Regions from separate parts of the Homo sapiens genome. Here region 1 is linked to region 2. Evidence: fine-mapped expression QTL. Tissue or cell type: whole blood. Region 2 holds a variant in brackets; the other region holds the start of a gene. All regions are shown on one strand. Distances are between the middles of the regions.

Region 1 (8,103 bases), 110 kb before region 2:
TATATTCCTGCCTTTTCCCCTCCTCCCCTTCCAGATCTACCCAGAAAAGTGTAGTGCTTGAAAGCCCTGTCTCTGGAACCAGACAGACAGGTTCACGTCACTCACTAACTGTGTGACCTTGGCCAAATAACTCTCCTTCTGAGCCAATTGTCATCATCTATAAGATGAGATTCATTTATTCAGCAAATATTTATTGAGTTCTCACTGTGACATGCCAGCATCTTACATGGATTTGTTCAATCCTGTCAACAACTTGGTGAGGCAAGTAGTGTTGTTTTCATTTGACAGATGAGAAATGAGACTGAGAGTCAGAGAACCTAGCTGCTCACCCAGCTAGTGAGTGGTGGGACCACCTACTGGGAGATTGTGTATGTAAAGTGCCTGGCCTATAGTAAAGCCTCAAAAAGCGGCAACTATTGTTAGCCTCAGAAAAAGAGAGGGAGAGGCCTAAGGCCTGGGCTACCTGAAACCAAGAGTCCTGTTTCTGCCCACCCGGCCCAAAAGCTGCCATCTGCCTCTCTCGCCACCTCAGAATGGAGTGGACCCAGGAATCTGGGAAGTAGATAGTTTGTCTCCAGTTGCCTGCCTGCTTCCTTCCCTCACTGTACCCTCATTTGACCCCTCTCTCCCACTCCACTCCCCTCCCCTCCCCCGCTCACCCAGGGCTCATGTCTGTGGAAAAGATGAGTTGTTAGCCATAGATAACTGAGTGGCTGCTACCTGTTTTCCTCTATCCCTCCTCTGGAGGAAAAATGAGGACTCCAACCTGAGGAAGTGCATGGAACCTGCTCTCCCCTTCCTCTCCTTGAACAAGATGGAAGCCTGTGCTCAGATCTCTGCTTCAGTTAAATTCAAGCCCTTTGGGAGTAAGGTAGCAGAGAAAGAATTTGCTGTAGAGTCCAGCAGATCTTGATCTATATCTCAGCTCTGATATTTACAGGCTGTGTGACATCAGCCAAGTTTGTTAACTACTCTGAGTCTCCATTTCCTCATAAGTCAAGTAGAAAAATATTATCAGCTACTTCATTGAATCATGGCTACTTCATTGAGCTACTTCAGAGGTTAAATATGATAATACTTGGAATTCATTACCTGGCACATAGTAGCCTCAAATTTTTTTCTGTGGCTTTTTCTGGAACTCTGCTGTCTCCTCTTAAGATGGCTTTGAGGAGTGGGAGCCTAGAGAAATCTAGAACCAGGGAAAGGGTCAAGCCAAGCTTCAGCCTCTGGTGCTCTGGGGCAGGGCAAGTGCCAGCCCAAAACCAGCTGCTGGGGGTGGATGCTGGGTGCAGGGGACTCTGGGAGCACTCAGGTTTCTCTCACCATTCCTGATGCCGCCTGGGGCTCATTAAGGCTGCCCTGGCCTTGGGTAACAGGCAGTAAGGGAGGGTGGGGCACAGAGGGCAGATGCCATAAGGGGACAGACCAGGAAGGGGAGGTGGTCAAGCTGCCCCATCCATCTATCTGTCCCTCTCTCTTCTCTTTTATCTTTCTCGCTGTCTCTGTTCTCTGTCTCTCGGTCTGTCTGCCCTAGTCTCTAGTTCTGTGTCCAGCTTTTCGGCAGTGTCTCTCTGTTTGTATGTCTGATTTCGCTCTCTGACATCTCTCCATTGTTCTCTATCCTTTTCTCTCTCAGTGTCACTGTCCGATTCCTCAGTCACCTATTCCTGCTGCTACCACTCTCCCATCCTCTCACTCACTTTCATCTGTCCGTCTCTCTGTGTGTGTGTGTGTGTGTGTGTGTGTGTGTGTGTGTCCTCTCTCCACCCCATCCCAACCTTGAAGGTGACAGAGGAGGGAATAGACACAAAGCATACAGACCCCCAGCTACTTAAGGGTCAAAGCCAAGGATCTTACCCTCTCCTTTAGCCCTGAGAATTCTGAAGCCCAAACTCCCAGTAGCCTTGACCCCCTGCTCTGTCTCAGTCACCCTGACCACCCATCCTGGCATGGGGTGAAAGAGACAGACCCCTCCAGACCTTTCTGGACCAGCTCCCAGCCCCCAGCTGTGCCTGAGCCCTCCCCACCCCCTCCCTGTCGCCTCAGATTCCCCTAATCCCTGCTCCCCTGCCCTCCCCTCTGCCCCACTTTTCCAGGATTCTGATTGGCTGATTCTACTGACTGGGCTGAGGGGGAGGGGGCTGGCAAGGGAGGGGGCAGAGGGCAGAACCAAGGGAAGGGGACGCTGTCAGGCCCAGGCCCCTGGGGGGCCAGGGCCAGGCCACTGCCTGGGGGCAGCAGGCATCAGAAACTAAAGGTATGAAAGGGGGTGGTGTCTGGAGGGAACAGGAAGGGATCCTGGAGACCTTCTGCTCTAGTAAAGTCAAGGGAGGACGGGCCAAGCACGCAGCCTCCTCGGTTTGCCTTTGTTCCTGGGAACCCCTGTTGCTGTCAGGGGGTTACTGGAGCAGTGAAGGGCGGCCAGAACTCCCCAGCTGGTGCACAGCAGGGTCGCAGAAGGGAGCTGGGCCAGTGGAAGCCCAGAAGGGCTCTGAGGACCTTTGGGCTGCCCCTTTGGAGTCTGGTGGAGTTCCTCCCGTGACTCTGAGAGGAGGAGGAGAAGGTTTCAGAGAAGGGTAGTTGAATGGCTGGCCTGGACTTTCATTTCCCCTTGGGGTCAGACCCAGGCATTCCCCGCCCATAGGCCAGGTCGAGGTTCCTCCTGCAGAACTGGACCTGTAGCTGAGCATTCCTGGTGAGACAAAAGGGCATGGGGGAAGACTGAGGAAGGTTGGGAGAAGGGGCTCTGAGAATGGCCTAGGTAGTTCACCTCCCAGAGCAAAAGCCACCCAACCCACTACCTACCCCCACAGATGTCAATAGTTAATAAAGAATTATAGTTAGAGCAAAATCTAATTCTAGGGCATCTGAGAGATTCAGCAGCCCCCCTCCAAATCTAAGTCTCAATATCCCCCTCTGGTCAGTAGGATGAATCACCCACTTGACTCTCTTCTTCCTGGGGCGATACCAAGCTTTAGGATCCCCTGGGGGAAAGCAAAACCAGAAGAAGAGGGTGGCCAGGGGCTTGAGGCTGGGAGTCCTGCTGGTTCAGCAGGCAGCCTGCAGAAAAGGTATGAGCTCTTACTGGGTCTGTAATGTGCCTAAGGAGTTTGGGGGAGGGAGGCTGGAAAAGGGGGAAGTGAAAACCACCCAGAAGGGAAGGACTGGTCTACACCCTCCCCCAGGCCCACAGGGCACTGTGCTCCATTGCTCTGGAGCCAGCAGGGGAAGTGTGTACACTATGTGCACTGAGGGTGACACTTCTGAGTGTGGGGGCCCTGGCTAGGGAGTGGGACTGGCAGGCTTGGGTGGGGTTCCCAAGCTTTAATCTTCCTACCCCACAGAATGTTTTCTCTGCCCTTCAGGCAGCCTGAGCCGGGCAGGGCCCCTGCCTCTGCTACGGCAGCCCCCGATCATGCAGCCCCCACTGGACCTCAAGCAGATCCTGCCCTTCCCACTCGAGCCAGCCCCTACCCTTGGCCTCTTCAGCAACTACAGCACCGTAAGTAGCAGCCTGCCTGCCTTCTCCATCCTCTTGTGACCCGACCTTTCTCTCTCAGACCCACCTCTGCCCTCTTCTTCTGTTTCTAATTCCTTATCTCCTCTTATGACCCCATCTTCCTTAATTCTAGTTAATTTTGAGTATTGTGGGCCATCTGGTACAGTGTTAACAACAATAATAATAGCTAATATTTGCTGAGGTCTTGCTACGGGCCAGACACTGTGCTAAGTGTTTTATATGAATTATCTCATTTAGTCCTACAGTGAATCGCCCTACCATCTAGAGAAGTAATGAGACTTAAATTGGTGGTAGTAACAGTAGGGAGGTAGGAGGGGTGTAGGTGCTGAATCCAGAAAGAGGGAATGAGCAGGAAAATAAGCATGCCTGTTTGTAAGTTTCACCTCTCTGCAGTCCACGGCTGGGTGGGTAGCATCAGTGGGATAGGGCTTGGAGGACTGGCAAGGTGGTCTAGATTTAATACAATATGAAATAAGGAGGTGCTGTCTATTCGTGTGTTTGTTTGTTTGTTTTTATGAGACGGAGTCTCACTCTGTTGCCCAGTCTGGTGTGCAGTGGCACGATCTTGGGTCACTGCAGCCTCCACCTCCCCAGTTCACCGATTCTCCTGCCTCGGCCTCCCAAGTAGCTGGGATTACAGGCGTGTGCCACCACACCGGGCTAATTTTTGTATTTTTAGTAGAGATGGGGTTTCACCATGTTGGCCAGGCTGGTCTCAAACTCCTGACCTCAGGTGATCCGCCTGCCTCAGCCTCCCAAAGTGCTGGGATTACAGGCATGAGCCACCACACCCAGCCGCCACTGTCTATTCTTGAGCAGGAGAGTGACTTGGTAAGAGCAGTGTTTGAGGAAGGTGAGTGGGGCAACTGGATGAAAGGGAACAGAGGCAGGAGGAAGGTGACAGTTAGGAGGCTGTCCTAGCAATGCAGGCCCGAGGGAAGCCTCAAAAGCCAGACGGGGCTGGTGGCAGTGGCAGTATGAGTGGAGAGAAAGGGAGAATGGGGGAGGTAATTTCAAGGAAATATTGACAGGCCATGGTGACCAACTGGTGTTTGGGGGTGGGGGAGAAGAGAAGGCATGAGTCAAGGATGACTCCAGCATTCAGGCCTTTGTGATTGGATGGAAGTCACCACTGACAGAGGCAGAGGGTTGGAAGAGGAAGCTGGTCTCCAGTGAGGATGATGCTTTAGCATGTGGTGCTAAAGCTAAAGCTTTATTTGTTTTGTTTTGTTTTGTTTTGTTTTTGAGATGTAGTCTTGCTCAATCTCTCAGGCTGGAGTGCAGTGGCATGATGATCTTGACTCATTGCAACCTCCGCCTCCTGGGTTCAAGCCATTCTCCTGCCTCACCCTCCTCAGTAGCTGGGATTACAGGCACGTACCACCATGCCCAGCTAATTTTTGTATTTTTAGTAGAGATGGGGTTTCACCATCTTGGCCAGGCTGGTCTGGAACCCTGACCTTGTGATCCACCTGCCTCAGCCTCCCAAGTGCTGGGATTACAGGCTTGAGCCACCGTGCCTGGCCTATTTGTTTTGTTTTAAAAAATAATAATAAATATTTTTTTTAAAAAAAAAAGGATATGGTGATTTGGCATACCAGTAGGACATTGAGCCCAAAATGTTCTACAGATAGTTAGAATCTGAAGCCTGGAAGGTGGGCTAGAGCTAAAAGTTTGGGGAAAGTCAGCCTTATTCAACTTAAATAACCCACATCAAACCATATTTAGCCATAAACATGTATTGAGCATTGACTACACACCAGGCACTGTAGCAGATGTTTCTATCTGCAATCTCATTTCACCTTCACAACAACCCAACAAGGTAGACATTATTATTCCATTTAACAAATAAGAAAGCAAAAACTAAGCCTCAGAAGGGTTTAGTAATTTATATAAGTTGACACAGTATGTGCCTAAGGTATGATTTGAACCCATTGCATCTGACTCTAAACAGACTTATCGTTATACCACAGCTGCTCCCCCCAAATGAGGGACCCAGACACACATTTGCATTGCACTTTTAAGTTTTCAGACTGGGCCAGGCGTGGTGGCTCACGCTTGTAATCCCAGCACTTTGGGAGGCCGAGGCAGGCGGATCACAAGGTCAGGAGATTGAGACCATCCTGGCTAACATGGTGAAACCCCGTCTCTACTAAAAAAAAAAACAACAAAAAACTAGCCGGGCGTGGTGGCGGGCGCCTGTACTCCCAGCTACTCCGGAGGCTGAGGCAGAAGAATGGCATGAACCTGGGAGGCAGAGGTTGCAGTGAGCCGAGATTGCGCCACTGCACTCCAGCCTGGGCAACAGAGTGAAACTCCATCTCAAAAAAAAAAAAAAATTCAATTTAACAAAAAAAAAATTTTTTTTGAGCACCTACTATGTGCTGGGTACTGTGCCTGGTGTCAGGGACACGGGACTCAGTTACCACACTTGGGGAGCTCATAGTTTGGTAGGAAGGATAACAAGTTAACAGTTACCCTATACAGTGTGAGAAGAGCTGTGTCAGAGGCATTTTGCTTGCATGGAAGCCCAAGTATCAAGAAAGACCTTCCTGGATGTGATGGGGCCTAAGGGACCAACCAGAGTTAGGCAGAAAAACAGAGAGCAGAGGAAAAAGGGATTTAACCTGGAGCAGGTGACATATAATTTGGGCTTTGAAGAATTATTGGCAAGATTTTTAAAGTAGTCTTAGAGAACATTCCAGACTGAAGTAAGTAGCATGAACAAGGGCTAGAAAGGAGCATTTGAGAAAGTGCAAGATTGGATGTGACTAGGTCATAAGATGGGGAGAAAACCTCCCCCCATCTAAACACCTGACTTACACTTGACCTCAGATCTTAGCAACCCCATCATTGTCCCCATTGTATAGATGAGGAAACACAGACGCAGAGAGGTTAAGTGAATTGTCCAAGGTCACAAAGCTACTTAGTTGATTGGATAATCCAGGGTTTCGACTCCTGCAGAGTTCATGGCTCCACTGCCTCTAGCAGAGGTATTTAAAGCGATGAGCATGGATAAGCTTGAAGAGTTCAGCAGGGTGTTGAACTGCATCCTGCATCTGATTGGCAGGATTTAAACTGATGTTCCAAAGTACTGGCTGTGTGATCTTAGGCAAGTTATTTAACCATTCTGAACCTCAGTTTTACTGACTGTAGAATGGGATAGTTTTTTTTTTTCTTTTTTTCTTTTTTTCTTTTTCTTTTTTTTTTTTTTGAGACAGAGTCTTACTCTGTCCCCCAGGCTGGAGTGCAGTGGCCCAATCTCCGCTCACTGCAACCTCAGCCTCTTGGGTTCAAGTAATTCTCCTTCCTCAGCCTCCAGAGTAGCTGTGGCTACAGGTGCACACCACCACGCCCAGCTAATTTTTGTATTTTTAGTAGAGACAGGGCTTCACCATGTTGGCCAGGATGGTCTCAATCTCTTGACCTTGTGATCCGCCCGACTCAGCCTCCCAAAGTGCTGGGATTACAAGCATGAGCCACTGCGCCCGGCCAATTTTTGTATTTTTAGTAGAGATGGAGTTTCGCCATGTTGCCCAGGCTGAGAATGGGATAGTATTAACACCAGCTCACAAGGTTGTGAGATCATATTACATAATCATAATGCCTAGCACAAACTAAGTGCTCAATCAGTGTTAGCTGCTATGATTATTATGCTATTGCTATTGTTTTTATTTAAAAGAGGAGTAAAGAGAGAAACTTAGGATGGTCAAGGCCTTAGCCTTCGGGAACGTGCAGAATTAGGCAGTGGGAACAGGAAGAGGCTTCAGCAAAAGGAATGGAAAAGCCACTGGAGCGGGTGGGGAGGGAAATATGTTCCTGTAGAGTTGGAGAAGCCAAGGGAGAGAGTGTGGCGGGCTGCATCAATACTGTCAAATTCTGCAGGGGAATGAGGACTGCAGAAAAGCTGCAGACAGGCCTTTGGAAGTACTGTGCAGCAGTTAAGTACGTGGCTTTGGAGTCAGACTGCCCAGGTTTAAATTCAAATCCCAGTTCAGTCACTTACTAGCTTATGACCTTGGGCAAATTATTTAACCTCTCTAAACCTCAGTTCCCTCCTCTATAAAATGAAGATAATAATAGTACTTACTTCAAATAGTGGTTGTGAAGATTAAATTAGATAATCCATGCAAAGAGCTCAGTACAGAAGCTGGCACATTGCAAGGGCTCAATCAACATTAGATGGTGGTGGTGATATTATTATTCATGACAGAGTCTCTCTTTCCCAGTGGACTGGCACCTCCAGTGCTCTCTCCTACTTGGGCAGTTCCTACTCCTTAGACCTCTTCTAGAATTACTGTCTCCCCTCGTTCTCCTCCCACTCACTCCACTGCTTCCCTCTGCCCTTGGACGTCCCTCACTGTTTCCCAAAGCCACCCTCTCTCTAGATCCAGTCCCCTGCTTCACTAATGTCTCTGCCTTAGGTGGGATGGGAGAAGATGAGACCTAGAGATGAAATACTGGGAATCCCAGGACCTGTCTAGACAGAACGAGGTGTCTGGGGGAGTGGGCTGCTAGGCCCTACAGCCTCTGGTCCCCCAGTGCTGCCCCCACTGAACCGCCAGAGGGCAGCAGGTGCACGA
Region 2 (8,103 bases):
ATCCTAATAGGAGAAAAACCATAGGTTTAGATTAGCAAAGCCTATACTCGAATAAAAAATTTTGGTAAGTTTAGAAAACTCCCGAATCTTAAGTCCATAGCAGCACATATCCAAGTAAGTTTAAGAAGAAGAAGAAAAAAAACCCACTCACTTCTCTGGAGACAGCTCTCTTTGGTTCCACAACTCTTCCATCCACCTTGTGTGGCCTTGCATTCATAGCTGCATCCACCTCCTCCACAGTGGCATATGTGACAAACCCAAAGCCCCTGGAGCGCTTGGTGTTTGGATCTCTCATTACCTGAGAACAGTGTTAATTTATGTAACACAAAGTCTGACCGCAAAAGCTTTTGTCATTTTAACTTTGAATAGGGCAATAGGAAACTTTACACCAGCCTTTTATAAAAAGTCGTCCAGTTTCCCACTACCCTAGATTTAAGAGGTAGCTTTTAAAATCAAAGCAGGACGTTCCTTTGCCAACAAAGCTCTAACTATAATGCTATTAACTACTTTCATAAGCATTCGGAGAAGACTGCACCAAGATAAGCCAAGGAAATCGGCTGTTTTACTGCTTTGTCCCTTCCAAATCTTACCACACAGTCCGTGAGCGTTCCCCATTGCTCAAAATGGCTCCTCAGGCTCTCATCAGTTGTTTCAAAGCTCAACCCTCCAATGAAGAGCTTCCTCAGCTGTTCGGGCTCTTTAGGAGACTAGAGTGGGGGGAGGGGGAAGTGTTAAATGGGCTACAACACGAAACAATTTCCATCGAGGAAAAGAAAAACTAGACACCAACTGTGTACCTAGCACTTATTGTTCGTTCAGGTCGCAACAAGACACGTGCTTCTGCCTATCAAGGGAGGCCGTATGCTGGAGTTGGGAGTGCTAGGAAATCGCAAGCGCATGCGTCCCTAGTCGCCTTCCGACGCACGCGCAACAAAGGCTTGGGCGGTAGGGGTGCATCTCCACAATGGGACTAATCGCTCTTTAGAAAACTCGCTCACCAAGGCAAGGTTTAAAAAAAGACAAAGATCCTGTGTGCCTAAGAATTTTGCTACGAGTAACGAGTCCCGCATGATAACTCATGGTTGGCGGAGAGCGGCCTCATGGCGATCAAGAGGACAAAATGGCGACTTGAACTTTGGGAGGGGTAGGCCGTGGCAGCGACCGAAGGAACTGTAGAATGGGCTGGTGCAAGGAACGAAACCCAGCAGCATCTTACCGATTCAGGAAAGGGAGAGGAAAAAATTCAAGTGGGAAAGCGCGCCTAACTCACCTCTGACTTAGACATGACGGCAGGGTGAAGAGAGACTTTAACGATGCTTCTTCGGCGGCGTCCACGGGCAGAAAGGAGCAAGCTGACGAACGTATCTGCCAGCCTACCTTCGCCCTCTCTTTTTTACCCCGCCTCCTCGCTTTCGGCATTGGTAGACTCCGCCCTGGAACAGCTCTGATTGGATACTTGAAATCGCTTCCCCCTGCTATTGGCCTGTGGTGCCACATTGCTGTGTAACGTCATTCCTTCGGTCGTTCTACGCCGTCTCCACCCCTTGGAGTCCATTGGTTCCCGAGTAATGTTATTGTTAACCAGTCTGATTGGCCAACCGACCAATCATTCACATTTGAATCTACCTTGGGTGTTTAACATCTTTTTAATCTTCCACGCGCAAATATTACAGTCAAGTCGCTTGGCAAAGCATGATTAACACTATGTATTAGACAAGCAGCCAGGAGGTAACAATTTTTTTGCAATGAACTCTTGTTGACCGCACGTGTAGTAAAATGGCGAGTTTTGCGCAGGCGCATTAAGAAGTTCCACCTGCCTCTGAGAACACGTGAAATGGCGGGCAGGAGTAGGCAGTGAACCTACGGCGCCTGCGTGTTGGCGGGAGTTTGTCCTAGCTTTGCGCATGCGTAGTGGGCGGAGAAAAAAGGTCCGGTCCCAGGATTGGTTGCGCAGGCGCAGGGAAGGATCCGTTTTGGCGGGCGGTTGGCGTTGCGCAGAAGGCGGCGGCGGTGGTGGCTTGTGGTGCGGCCTCACCATACAGGAACAGGGCAGACGTTAGCGTGAGTGATCACTCTCAATCCCGGGTAAGTGGCAGACAGTCTTATCTACCCATAGTAGGTCTTGAACTGACTCCATTTGGGCCCGTTATTGTGTGAAATGAATGGACGGCGGGGTGGGGGGATAGTGAAGGGGCAGCGGTGGGTCGGGCCAACCAATAGAAGAACAGGGGGCGGGATGTTTTAATCCCCGTAGGTTCTTTGGAGCTGTGCAGCCGAAGACTTTGACTGGCTTGTGTATAGGCCAATTGGGTCTGCCTTGAGCTGCCGACTGATCGGCCCTTGGGCCATCGGAATGTGGGAGACGGGTTTTCCCCTTCTGAGCAGCGTCTCACTGAGCCAGTGAGCAGGAAGCGCGCGGTAGGTTGGGCTTCTCCAGGAGGCAGCGGTTTGACTCCAATGGGGAATGCGGGATCGGGCGGTTAAACGGATGGAACGAATCTGGAACCAGTAGACGGACAGCCTAAGGAAAGCGCTGGGACCAGTCGTCCAATCGGCTCTCCAAAAGAGGGAGGTCTTCGATTTGGGGTTGTGAGGAAGGGGAGTCGGTGCCTGTAATGGCGTGTGAGGGTGGATGTTTTATCCACGATGACTTCTCTAACGAAGCCTTTAGGCCTCAGTCCCATACACCTCCTTGAAAGCGTAAGTTTGCTCCTGTATTCCTCGACTTGAGCATTTTTCCCCCGCCCCCTCACCACTTGAGGTTTGGGGAACAGGAGTTGTTTTTTTTTGTTTGTTTGTTTTTAAATAATACTTTCAGAAGTCGCTTCTTTAGGAAGACTGTTAAAATGTTAGAACGAATGGGAGAAATCTCTATGTACTGTCATGGAAAGGCGTTCAAGAAATATCTCCTTCCTGATAGTGCATATTTCTACTGACAAATATGTTTGTAGGTCCACAGAAAAGTTTTGGAAAGCTACACACCAAAGTGTCAATCCTAGGGACACAGTAGGATCGAGGCAGATTAGATCTTTAATGTTTAAAACTTTGCAAGGTTAATAATTTGTGATTAAAATTAAATAAAAAATGAAGTCGATTGTTTTGTGTTTCTAGTCATAATCACATACTTACAACCCCTTTTCTGTTTTATGTAATCCATGTGCCCAGTGCTTTTATTTTAGTCTCTTTCTCCCGGGAACTTTCATATATTTCTTTTCTTTACACCATTGAAGATATCCTAAAGTCCCTCTTTTTGCTGTTCCTTTGAGGATATCTGACTTTGGAATAAAAAAGAAACAAAGAGGGTAATATTTAGGGTTCTGGGGACAGAAGATTCATCCATCACCTGGATTATTCCTTGCCTTTTAATTAGATTTCCTTCGAAGTGTGTTTTACATGCAGTCTATCTCCTTTTGGTAATGCCCACTCTGCTTATTCCAGGATCTTTTGGAGAAATAAATAAATTTTGATAACATTGGCTGTATCAGAGTCTTACTGCTTTATTCAATAATTTATTCAGGATCAAGGGAAAATATTTAAATACTGAAAATCAACTACCTATGAAATACACTTATAATTAGAGACCTTTCCGACTTTATACCAAAGACAGACGATTTTAATAGCAGTTTATGAACAGAGGAGAGATTTCCATGTTCTCTGGCACTAGCAAAAGGACAAACCTATAATTTATACCTGGCTGTAAACCTATTTGTAGGTATGCTAGTAATGGAGTTGCTGAGCTTCTGAGAACTAAAGTGATACTGGTTAAGGGTATCTGTCCTGGATTTATTTAGGTTTGGAAGGAATACAGTCTTGACCTACAGCAAGGTTTCTCAGCATTAGCACTGTTGGTATTTTGAGGCAGATAATTCTTTGTTGAGGGTGCTCGGAGTGTCCTGTGCATAGTAAAATATTTAGCAACATTCCTGGCCTCTACCCACTGTATGCCAGTAACATCGCATCACTCGCCACATCCCCATTTGTGACAGATTGTTTCCAGACATTGCCAAATGTCCGGGGAGGTAGGGATGGGGGATAAAATCTCCCTTGGTTGAAAACCATTCATTTAAAATACTGGAGTATGCAGGGCACAGTTTCGTGTTCCTGTAGTCCCAGCTACTCTGGAAGCTGAGGCTGAGGTAGGAGGCTTGAGTTCAGGAGGTCAAGGGTGCAGTGTGAGATGATTATGCCTGTGCATAGCCACTGCACTCCAGTCTGGGCAGCACAACAAGATCCCATTGCTAAAAAAATAAAAATAGAACACTAGAGTTTATTATTTTTTCAAAATCCATTATTTTACCAATTGGAAAATAGGTAAAGGTGAGAAGATGGTTGAAATGTTTAGGGAGTGGCCTTTGGTAAATGGATCACTAAATCCTGATGTTATCTCCTTAGATACAGAATTGATCATTGTTCCATTTAATAAAAGGAAATTTTTATTAAAATTTTTACCACTTGGTCTGGCGCCGGTGGCTCATGTCTGTAATCCCAGCACTTTGGGAGGCCAAGGTGGGCGGATCACTTGAGGCCAGGAGTTTCAGACCAGCCTGGCCAACAAGGTGAAACCCGTCTCTACTAAAAACAAAAATTGGGCTGAGCGTGGTGGCTCATGT[C/A]TGTAATCCCAGCACTTTGGGAGGCCGAGGCGGGTGGATCACTTCAGGTCAGGAGTTTGAGACCGGCCTGGCCAACATCGTGAAACCCCGTCTCTACTAAAAACACAAAAAATTAGCCAGGTGTGGTGGCGGGTGCCTGTAATTCCAGCTACTCGGGAGGCGGAGTCAGGAGAATTGCTTGAACCCAGGAAGCAGAGGTTGCAGTGAGCCGAGATTGCGCCACTGCACTCCAGCCTGGGCGACAAAGCAAGAGTCCGTCTCAAAACAAAAAAACCCACAATAATTAGCCAGTCATGGTGGTGGGCGCCTGTAATCCCAGCTACTCAGGAGGCTGAGACGGGATAATCGCTTGAACCTGGGAGGCAGAGTTTGCAGTGAGCCGAGATGATGCCACTGCACCCCAGTCTGGGCGACAGAGTGAGACCTTGTCTCAGAAAAAAAAAGTTTTTACCACTTTTTGCTGCTTAAACTTACACATACGATTGATTGCATCTTGTCCTTGTTTGGCTTCCTAAAATAATGGCAAATATGTTTTTGAAGAAGGTAGACTTTGCCTCACATCCTTCTTTTTCACTTGATTCTAGCTAGCCTCTTTCTTTTCCTGGGATTCTTTTGGATCCACGTCTCAAAACTTTTTTGACCGCAATAAGAAATATATTTTACACTAATCCTGTACACACATTGAAACATTTCACTAAACGTGCAGAGTACTCTGATATTCTTTTGTCTGCAGTATACTATTTCATTGTCTTAAGAAAGCAGTCAATTTCCATTGAACTGATTTCACAGCTGTTTATAGACCCAGGGTTTTGGGGGAAAAAGACTGCTGATCTGAAGAATAGGTCACCAAATCATGCCAACTTTGATTGCTTTCTGAGTCAGTTCCTTCCATCTCCAGCCCCAGCCACTTGTACAGATGGTCCCTTGCTTGTGATATTTCGACTTAAGATTTTTCACCTTTACAACGGTGTGGAAAGCAATTTGCATTCAGTAGAAACCATATTTCAAGTATCCACATAACCATTCTGTTTTTCACTTTCGGTACAGTAATCAACCAATTACATGAGATATTCAACACTTTATTATAAAACAGGCTTTGTGTTAGGTGATTTTGTCCAACAGTAGGCTAATGTAAGTATTCTGAACACATTTAAGGTAGGCTAGGCTAAGCTATGATGTTCAGTAGATTAGGTGTAGGAAATGAATTTTCAATTTTTCATATTTTCAACCTATGATGGGTTTATCAGGACATAACCCCATCAAGGAGTATCTATGTAAACAGATTAAGCAGTGACCCATTATTTGGTGTTTTTACTCATGTGTTTTACTTTGAAAGATTATAGGAGCCAAACCGAGACTTTCTAGTTTACTGTCGTGTGCAAGTGAAAACTGCTTGTTTTATTGTGAAGTCTCACAATGCTTAAAGAGGGAAAACAATAAAAATATTGCAAAATGTCTCCCAATGTGATAGGTTTTTTTTTTTTTTTTTTTTGGAATGGAGTCTCGCTCTTGTTGCCCAGTCTGGAGTGCGGTGGCACGATCTTGACTCACCTCAACCTCCGCCTCCCAGGTTCAAGCAATTCTCCTGCTCCAGCCTCCTGAGTAGCTGGGATTACAGGCATACGTCCGGCTAATTTTTAGTAGAGACGGGGTTTCTCCATGTTGGTTAGGCTGGCCTCAAACTCCTGACCTTAGGTGATCTGCCTGCCTTGGCCTCCCAAAGTGCTGGGATTACAGGTGTGAGCCACTGTGCCCAGCCTCCAATGTGGTAGTTAATAGATATGATGAACTTTTCTCTCTGGTGGTGAAATTTTAGTGGGTAATTTTTCATTGAAATTCTGGTACTATCACAGAGTTAGAAATCCTAACTTCCAATGTGATACGTGTTGGGCCTCTAATTACAGAAGTTATAACGCTTGTGCTTAGAACTTAGAGACATACTGCCTGGGCGCAGTGGCTTATGCCTGTAATCCCAGCACTTTGGGAGGCCGAGGCGGGCAGATCATGAGTTCAGGAGATTGAGACCATCCTGGCTAACACGGTGAAACCCCATCTCCGCTAAAAATACAAAAAATTAGCCGGGCGTGGTGGCACACGCCTGTAGCCCCAGCTACTCTGGAGGCTGAGGCAGGAGAATTGCTGAGCCTGGGAGGCGGAGGTTACAGTGAGCCGAGATTGCACCACTGTACTCCAGCCTGGGTGACAGAGCGAGACTGTCTCAAAAAAGAAAAAAAAACTTAGAGACATACCTACTATTGCAACCAAATCTAAAAGGGGTGTTTACTAAAGGGGAATATATTCTGTCTGAAAACTAGTAAGTGGAAAGCTTCAATTTGGGTAGTAGGTGAGCAGGATGATAGTTGGGGAAAGAAAGAGTGAGCCTACATTTGAAGCGGCTGGATTTGTATATGGCTAGGGAAATTCTGGAGATTCTCAGAGCCCTTAACAATACTCTAGAAAAGAGAAAGGTTTGGTATCAGGGTACAAAGATTTTTGAGGAAGACTAAGTCGCTTTTTGTTTCTATTGAGATTTGTTTGTTTTTGAGACAGAGTCGCGCTCTGTCACCCAGGCTAGAGTGCAGTGGCGTGATCTCGGCTCACTGCAACCTCTGCCTCCCGGATTCAAGCGATCCTCCTGCCTCAGCCTCCCGAGTAGCTGGGACTACAGGCACGTGCCACCATGCCTGGCTAATTTTTTTGTATTTTTAGTAGAGACAGGATTTCACCGTGTTAGCCAGGATGGTCTCAATCTACTGACCTCATGATCCAACCGCCTCGGCCTCCCAAAGTGTTAGAATTACAGGCATGAGCCACTGTGCCCGGCTCTATTGAGGTCTTTAACCACATAGCATGATTTCCATATCTTATTGGTATAGCCCATTTAATTAATAACTGTCCTGGTAAAGCATTTCTAGTCTTTATTTTGTCCTTTTACTTAGATTATTTTTATTTCCATTCATCTTACATGAAACTGGGCCTAAAGCTGTGTTATGGATATTGATTTTAAAAGTAATAAATTACAACATGAGATACCACTTGACTTAGTATGGCTGTTTACATATCTGCTATTCGTGAACTCGGACTCTGGGCAATCATCTTTTTCTCCTGATATAAACTTTTATTTTTCTTCCTTGCTTATAGAGAATGATTTTAACTGATCATTGTACTAATAGGAAGGAGTCCAGGTCATCCTGAGAAGAGTTCGCTTGTCCAGAGTCCAAGATGCAGATTTGTTGGATTTCTGTAAGCCACTCGAAGCCACATATTCATTTCTGATGACAGCTTTACACTTGTGCTGGAAGAACACCCACTGTGACAACTGCTGCCTATGTTTAGTCTGTCCAGGAGCTCTACCAACTAGCATGTTTGCAGAAAAACCTACACTGTTCTTGTTAGCAGCTATGTAAATATTAGATCTTTCTGAGTTTCTCTTCTCAGATCTGCCAATTTCTTTGGGGCAAATTGTATCCTGCAGTAGCCTCAATTTACCCTT

Evidence for each region. PIP is the estimated chance that this variant, and not a neighbour inherited with it, causes the effect.
Region 1: ZNF385A starts here. The variant in region 2 is fine-mapped to the expression of ZNF385A in whole blood (TOPMed, PIP 0.93).

Annotation. Positions count from the first base shown.
Region 1 is chr12:54,379,827-54,387,929 of GRCh38, reverse strand. It overlaps ZNF385A (zinc finger protein 385A), which reads left to right and starts at 3,197. Exons shown (of 7, transcript NM_015481.3): 1 at 3,197-3,502. The coding sequence starts at 3,416. The region is part of intron 1 of GPR84-AS1 (GPR84, ZNF385A, ITGA5 and GTSF1 antisense RNA 1); the gene reads right to left. RefSeq lists enhancers at 1-5, 6-640.
Region 2 is chr12:54,273,990-54,282,092 of GRCh38, reverse strand. CBX5 (chromobox 5) reads left to right here and starts at 1,971. Exons shown (of 5, transcript NM_012117.3): 1 at 1,971-2,085. HNRNPA1 (heterogeneous nuclear ribonucleoprotein A1) reads right to left here and starts at 1,367. Exons shown (of 11, transcript NM_031157.4): 1 at 1,271-1,367; 2 at 591-707; 3 at 152-298; 4 at 1-3. The coding sequence starts at 1,285. SCAT2 (S-phase cancer associated transcript 2) reads right to left here. Exons shown (of 2, transcript NR_157844.1): 2 at 3,030-3,441. RefSeq lists enhancers at 88-846, 1,589-1,648, 1,659-1,748, 2,039-2,088, 1,607-2,366 and 1 more and a cis regulatory region at 272-2,572. The variant C/A (reference allele first, on the strand shown) is at 4,611.